2 linked regions of the Homo sapiens genome follow. The protein of the gene in region 1 interacts with the protein of each later gene in a biochemical or structural test. Each region holds a gene or a part of one and is shown on either strand. Other genes may lie near its edges. The genes, in order: IKZF4 and FOXP3.

Evidence for each region.
Region 2: the proteins of IKZF4 (region 1) and FOXP3 form a complex in vitro, tested with the Homo sapiens proteins (one study listed by BioGRID).

Annotation. Positions count from the first base shown.
Region 1 is NC_000012.12:56,030,730-56,034,542, reverse strand, and holds part of IKZF4 (zinc finger protein Eos), read right to left. Parts: intron 1,983-3,813; coding exon 1,833-1,982; intron 1,354-1,832; coding exon 1,222-1,353; intron 1-1,221. UniProt on the Homo sapiens protein: DNA-binding protein that binds to the 5'GGGAATRCC-3' Ikaros-binding sequence. Transcriptional repressor. Interacts with SPI1 and MITF to repress transcription of the CTSK and ACP5 promoters via recruitment of corepressors SIN3A and CTBP2.
Region 2 is NC_000023.11:49,258,022-49,261,834, forward strand, and holds part of FOXP3 (forkhead box protein P3), read right to left. Parts: intron 507-3,813; 5' UTR 485-506; coding exon 275-484; intron 1-274. UniProt on the Homo sapiens protein: Transcriptional regulator which is crucial for the development and inhibitory function of regulatory T-cells (Treg).

The sequences.
Region 1 (3,813 bases):
GGGTTTGGAGAATTCCTACACTCTCCTCAGGATTACTTCTTTGTTTTTTTACCTGTGGGGCTGGGTGTAACATTATTTACTACGTGGCATTTACTTTCGCAGGGTCAGGTCCTTTGTGGGACTGCTCCCTGACTCTAGGCTATAATCTTAGAGAAGGACTCAATCCCAGCCCATTGATTTTTAATACTTCATTTTATTACTCTCCATAAAGCTCCAGGTCCTTAGAGAGCTCATGACTAGTGCTGGGGATAGGGGGAACCACATACTTATTTCCTCTCTCTGACTCTCTAAGGGCCCACACAGACTGAAGTTCTTGTTATTCTTAAAAACTGAGATAGCCCGGGCCGGGCGCGGTGGCTCACGCCTGTAATCCCAGCACTTTGGGAGGCTGAGGCGGGCAGATCATGAGGTCAGGAGATTAAGACCATCCTGGCTAACACGGTGAAACCCCGTCTCTACTAAAAATACAAAAAAAATTAGCCGGGCATGGTGGCAGGCGTCTGTAGTCCCAGCTACTCGGGAGGCTGAGGCAGGAGAATGGCGTGAACCTGGGAGACAGAGGTTGCAGTGAGCCGAGATCGTGCCACTGCATTCTAGCCTGGGCGACAGAGCAAGACTCCGTCTCAAAAACAAACAAACAAACAAAAAACTGAGACAGCCCGATGCCTCGACCCTGTCCCTTACAACCACCACGAGAGTCTTCAGTGCCAACCCTTCTCCACTCTCTTTGAGTACATCCTCCCTCTTTACTTTCCTCCTGTCCTGAGGATAGATTTTCAGTATCAGAGGCCACCAGCCTGCTTTCTTTCTTTCCTTTTTTCTTTTTTCTTTTGAGACGGAGTCTTGCTCTGTTGCCCAGGATGGATGGAGTGCAGTGGCGCGATCTCCGCTCACTGCAAGCTCCGCCTCCCAGGTTCACACCATTCTCCTGCTTCAGCCTCCCGAGTAGCTGGGACTACAGGTGCCCGCCACCACGCCCGGCTAATTTTTTGTATTTTTAGTAGAGAGGGGGTTTCACTGTGTTAACCGGGATGGTCTTGATCTTCTGACCTCTTGATCTGCCCACCTTGGCCTCCCAAAGTGCTGGGATTACAGACGTGAGCCACTGCACCCAGCCCACCAGACTGCTTTCTTTCCCCAAACCGAATCTCCAGACCACACAGCTCAGATTTATTTGAGCTGTGGCTTAAAGCTGATACGTCTTTCCAACTGGATTCTTACCTACAAACTTCTGGGGTGTGGAACGCTTGCGTTTGGTGAGGCTATTGGCCAGACGATCGATGAAAGTTGGCCGCTCAGAGGATGAGTGCAGCATGGAGTCTGGCACCATCTCCAGGTCACGTATTTCGTCACCTAGTGGGAAGAAGGTGGAGACAGTAGTAGCAGTTGAGTAGGGGTAGCATTGGCCCCACAGCCTTTGCCTGGAGAAAACCAGCAGGTCAGTAGCCAAGGAAGGACATACCAGTTGCCTGGGAAACTGGGCTCTGTTTACCCTACCTAAAGCTCACTCCAATAAAATTTCAGATCATTTGGGGACAATCATACACATCTGGCCCTTGGTTTTATACTTCTTGTGTTCTCTCTCTCCCATTAGGCCAAGGATATAGACCCAAACTTCCCCTACCTGTCGATCTCCCTAAAGCACCCACCACAGACAAGGCTCTCCACCAACTGGGTTACCTAGAATGGGGTGTTTGGCAGATTTACTGGGGTAATCATCCCCTGTTCCACAGACTTCATCCCTCAGTGTGGGAGATACTGGAGTCACCCTTGTCTAGCACTCCCTCTCACCATCCCCTTTTAACTCCCCAGTAGTACATCAATAGCCCTACCTGGTTGGCCAGCCAAAGCTTGGGCTTCAGTGCTGAGACTCTGTAGGTAGTTATGGCACCGCTCCTTGTGCTCCTCCAGGGTACTCTGCTGTTTGTAGCTCCGGCCACAGTAGTTACACTTGTAGGGCTTGCCCACTGTGGGAGAGGAGACTGTGGAGGAGAGTGGAAAGATGGCATCAGAGCTATTTCTCGCTGTGCCCTGGCTCTGCAGATTCAGCCAAGAGCAAGTATACACTGGCATGGGAAGGAAAGGATGTTGCTAAATTGAGTTCTTCTACTTGTCTTTCATTTCCCAACTTCAACTGCAACCGCGGACAGATGAACAATATTTGATGATGAAGGATAATGTGCAGTTATGGGGGCAAGGGAATCCTAGGGCATGTGGCTTCAGACTGGTGGTGGGTTTGTTCAAGATGGCCAAATTGTTGCTTAAAGGAAGTGAGGACCCAGGGACTTTGTAGAGGATCATCCCTAGCAGACAGGCAGGCCCCACTGCAGGATCTCAGAGTCTGGGGCCCAGACTGTGGTTTAACCTTTCCATTTGGCAGGCGGATGTAAGTGCTGTTTATCAGACAAGGGGATTTTTTGCTTTTTATGAACTATCTGCTTTGGTTTGGGGGAAACTGGTGGGCTGGCATGACAGAAATGAGAGCCCTTAGATCTGCCAATGTGGGGAGGGGGCAGTTTTCATTGACCTTTACTTGTATTTTGACCTCCAGCCCTAGCCTGGTTTACTGATTATTTTGTCTCTCTGTCTCTCTACGCTGAGATACCAAGAGAGGTCTAGAAAGCCCATCACTGATAGAGTAATTCTGAAAAGAGAAAAAGAATAAAAGAACAGAGAAGAAAATAAAGAAGAGTAAAAAAAAGAGAACACCAAATTTGGGTTTGTTTGTTTATGTGCTTGTAATAAGGAACAGGTTATAAAGGTCTTGTTTCTACCGAAGAAAGAAAATTGGAAAACAGAGTGGTACTTCATTTAAAGATAACTCTTAAGAGATATTTGTGAGAGGAGAGAAAAAAGTGGAGAGAAACAACGTATTGTATATTTGATGTATCTTGCTGCTATTGAGCAGGGAGACAGGAGAAGGTATCTCTAGGAAGCTGGTAATTACTATTCACCCCTAACCTTGCCATGCCAAAGCTGGGCCTTGACTAAATCAATCTACTGGATTTTACTCAGGCTCTGTAAACTCTTGTATTTTAGGGATGAAATGAACACCATGGTCCCTATCCACCCAAAGACCCTTGGGGAAACAGTTTAACATCTGGGAGAGGAATGATCCTCCAACCGCTTTCTTTTTTTTCAAATTTTAATTGATAATTGATACATAATAATTATACATGTTTATGAGATACATATGATATTTTCATACATGTATACGACATGTAATGATCAAGTTGGGGTAACTGGCATATCTGTCACCTCAAACATTTATCTTTTTTTCTTCTTTTTTTTGGAGACAGAGTCTTACTCTGTTGCCTAGGCTGGAGTGCAGTGGCACGATCTCGGCTCACTGCAACCTCTACCTCCTGGGTTCAAGCGATTCTCCTGCCTCAGCCTCCCAGTAGCTGGGACTACAGGCGCCCACCACCATGCCCAGCTAATTTTTTGTATTTTTAGTAGAGACGGGTTTCACCATGTTAGCCAGGATGGTCTCAATCTCCTGACCTCATGATCTGTCTGCCTCAGCCTCCCAAAGGCTAGGATGACAGGCGTGAGCCACCATGCCCAGCAAACATTTATCATTTCTTTGTATTGGGAACATTCAAAATAATCTCTTCTAGCGATTTTGAAATATACAATAAATTATTGTTAACTACAGTCATTCTACTATGCTGTGGAACACTACAACTTATGCCTCCCATCTAACTGTAATCTTGTACCCATTAACCAGCCTCTCGCTATCCACCTACTCCCAACCCTTCTCAGTCAGCCTCTGGTAACCACTGTTCTACTCTCTACTTTTTTTTTTTTTTT
Region 2 (3,813 bases), on another chromosome or scaffold:
ACACATAGCTATGCTCATGGGACTACAATACGGCCTCCTCCTCTCCTGAGACAGGGATTGGGAGGTCGGGGAGAGCCTCCAATCTCTGAGGCCTGGCAGGTGGGGATTTTCTTGGCCCTGCAACATCTGCATAAGTCACAGACTTGCCTGGGACCCAGAAACCACTTCCTGTGCCCCAGCCAGCCCCCCTCCCGCCCAGTGCCACAGTAAAGGTCGGCACCTGTAGGTCCAGGTACCCCACCCTGCCTGCCCCATCCTGGGCCCAGGGCCTCACCTGCAGCTGCGATGGTGGCATGGGGTTCAAGGAAGAAGAGGAGGCATGGGCCCCGCCTCGAAGATCTCGGCCCTGGAAGGTTCCCCCTGGGCCCCGGGCCCCCAGCAGGTCTGAGGCTTTGGGTGCAGCCCTCCAGCTGGGCGAGGCTCCTGGGGATGGGCCAAGGGCCAAGGAAGGGGCCGAGGGCTTGCCAGGCCTGGGGTTGGGCATCGGGTCCTTGTCCAAGGGCAGGCTGCGTAGACAATAGGGGAAAGGAGTCACACGTGTGCTAGGGCGGTATGAGATACTCGACCACCTGAGCCACGTGGACACTCCTCTGGTCAAAGCAGGCATTGGCTGGGACATGTCCCGAGGGGCCCCATAGTTGCACCCCAGCTCTAGACACACACACACACACACACACACACACACACCAAGAACACAGGTACATGTACATACCCACACATGCCCCACGTGCAGAGGTCCAGCACCTGGCTTGCCTGCCCACGCTAGCACAGCCCTGGTGTGGATGTGTCCTCTATGAGGGCAATGGTTGTTTCCCCCTCCACTTGAGAGCTGTTTCAAGCCTCAGGCCTCTAGCCCTCCCTGCACCCTGCACAGGCTGTGTTTGCTCATCTTGCCGGAGCTGGTCTCGGACTTTCTCCTCGGAGTCCTATTTTGCCCCAGTGACTAGGCATGGACTCAAAAGATTCATCTGGCTGCTGTGAGTGGGGCTAGTGAGGAGGCTATTGTAACAGTCCTGGCAAGTGATGATGCTGGCACAGAATGGGCTGGTGGCAGTGGAGAAGGCGAGAAGTGGGTAGATTCTGAGACTTAATCTGAAGCTGGATCAGGAGCAGTGCTAGCAGCTTGGATGTAGTGGGCAAGAGGGAGAGTCAAAGTGACATGGGTTTTAGCTTGAGCAGCTGGAAGGACCGAGCTGACATTACCTGAGATGGGGGACATGGCGGGGAGTTGGATTGGGTGCAAAAGTGCAGGTGTAGATAGACATGAAGAGTCTGGCATTAAATATGTGAGTGGAGGAGCTGAGGGGGCAGCTGAATACGGGGGTCTGGATCTCAGGGCAAGGAGGCGAGTCCAGGAGTGTGATCATGCACGGATCCAGCATGGCAAGTGACAGAGAGGAGGAGAGATGGGGTCTCTTGAGCTGGGGCCTGTAGAAGCTTCTCTACCCAGCCCCCATCAGAGTTCACCCCAATTTCTGGCCCTCAAGCCTGGCTCATGCTACACCCCCTGCCTCAAATGCCCACTCCTTCTCCTCTTTCCCTGTCCAAGCCACGCAAGACCTGCTCTTCTATTGTCCTCACCTTGAAAGCCCTCCACAATGGCTCCGGGCCCCCTGCTGAGCCCCAGAACCTTCCACTCCCTGAGGGAAGCACTGGCTTTTCAGGATCCTATAATCCTGGTCTGAGAGGAAGCCAGAGCTGGAAGGGACTGCCCAGCCAACCCCATTATACAGAAGGGGATGCTCAGATGCCGAGTTCCGTAGTCCCATAGTGACTTGAGAACTCCACTTCTTTCTTTAGGAAGTGTTTCCGTGTGCACATTTTATAAACTCTCTGGTGTGTGTGTGTGTGTGTCTCCATCTCCCCGTTCCACCTCACAGCACTGAGTTGGGCACACAGCTGCTGAGAGCAGCCCGGGGGAGTATAGAAGGGTTCTGGGGGAGCAGTTGCTCCTTCCTTTCTTTGCTGTCACCTCCTGGGGGTGGTTGTCAGAGCTGTGGTGCTGAGGGAGATGAGTGTGAGAATCCAGGTATTAAGTTCTTAGTCTCCTGGGGGCTTAGAACATTACTGCGTGAGAAACAGGAGTGTGGGTCTGTGGAGGCTCCGAACAAGGGCCTGGGAGAGCACTGGTGAGATGAGAAGGTGAGTGAATGAATGAAGCCAGAGATGGGGTGATGCTCCTTCAAGCCAAGAAATAACAAAGATTGCCAGCAACCACCAGAAGCTGGGGGAGAGGCCTGGAGCAGCTTCTCCCTTATGGCCCCCAGAAGGAACCAACCCTGGCAACACCTTGATCTTGGACTCTGGCCTCCAGAACTGTGAGATGATCAATTTCTGTTGCTGAAGCCACTCAGTTGTGGTACTTTGTTATAGCAGCCAGAACAAACTAATACCGATTTCGGTGCAAATGGATGTTTTCCACCACTCTGGCCTGGCCCATGTGGCTGGCCTGTGGTCACTTCTGAAGCTGCCTGGACACTTGGCCAGAGCTAAGAATTCTCCCCAAACACATGTGGGATGGCCTGACTCAGCAAAGCATAGATACATTCTCAGACAGGGACATGGAGATGATCTGTCTGGGGGTAGAGGACCTAGAGGGCCGGGCTGGGCAGCCGGCTTCCTGCACTGTCTGTTGGGACGTCCCTTTCTGACTGGGTTTCTCAGAAGCTGAATGGGGGATGTTTCTGGGACACAGATTATGTTTTCATATCGGGGTCTGCATCTGGGCCCTGTTGTCACAGCCCCCGACTTGCCCAGATTTTTCCGCCATTGACGTCATGGCGGCCGGATGCGCCGGGCTTCATCGACACCACGGAGGAAGAGAAGAGGGCAGATACCCCACCCCACAGGTTTCGTTCCGAGAACTGGCTGCCCTGTCCTGCAGCAGGCTTGGCCCAGGTGGGGTGACATGGGTGCTGGTGGATGTGGTAGGTGATGTCCATCTGGCCACTATGACAAGCCCCTAGCTCTGAAGACCTGGCCCTTCTTGGGTTGTGGAGAGGACCCAGGTTTGAAGCTCTGAGAGTGCCAGGCAGGCTCCACAGATACTGGGACCCCTGGGGTCTTCAAATAGTATAACACCAGGACCTCAGAATCATAGAACAGCATTTCTTAGATTTAAAGGATCCTAGAATCTCAAAACCACAGACTGTGGGGTCTACGGTCCCAAAGTCTCAGTATGTGTAGGCCAGTGTCCCTGGTGTCCAAACTCCTTGGAACCATCTGAAAGTCAGGCAGCTTGCTGCTTCATAGGGCCTCTTGCCTACCAGGCCTGGAAACAGAGCCAGCCTCCCTAGGGCCTCAGTCTCCCTGTCCACTCTGGAACAACGTTCCCAAATACATGGCCACTCCGCCAGAGATGGCAACAGGGGGAGGAGGAGGTTGAGGCTGGTGTGCCTTTGGTCTGGGCCTCATGGGGGGAGCTGGAAAAGCCTCAGCCTTCGCCAATACAGAGCCCATCATCAGACTCTCTAGAGGGGCCCCACAATCAAGGTTTTCGGGGACCAGCACCAGCTCTGGGGACACACAGCCTGACTGACTGACATGCCTCCATCATCACCACGCTCTGGCCAACTAGGCCTCCTGACCTATGGAGTCCGGGGCCTCACCTAGCCCAGCTCTTGTGAGGCTGGGCCCCACACTGTGATCGTGGATCGTCCAACCTGTGGGAAGTTGGGGTCCAACGTGTGAGAAGGCAGAAGGGGGAATGGTAGCCCAGGTTCCCCTTCCCCCTTCTGGGTGCTGAGGGGTAAACTGAGGCCTGCAGTTGGGGAGAGAGCCAGAACCAGGGTCCCACCTAGAGTCCTGAGATCT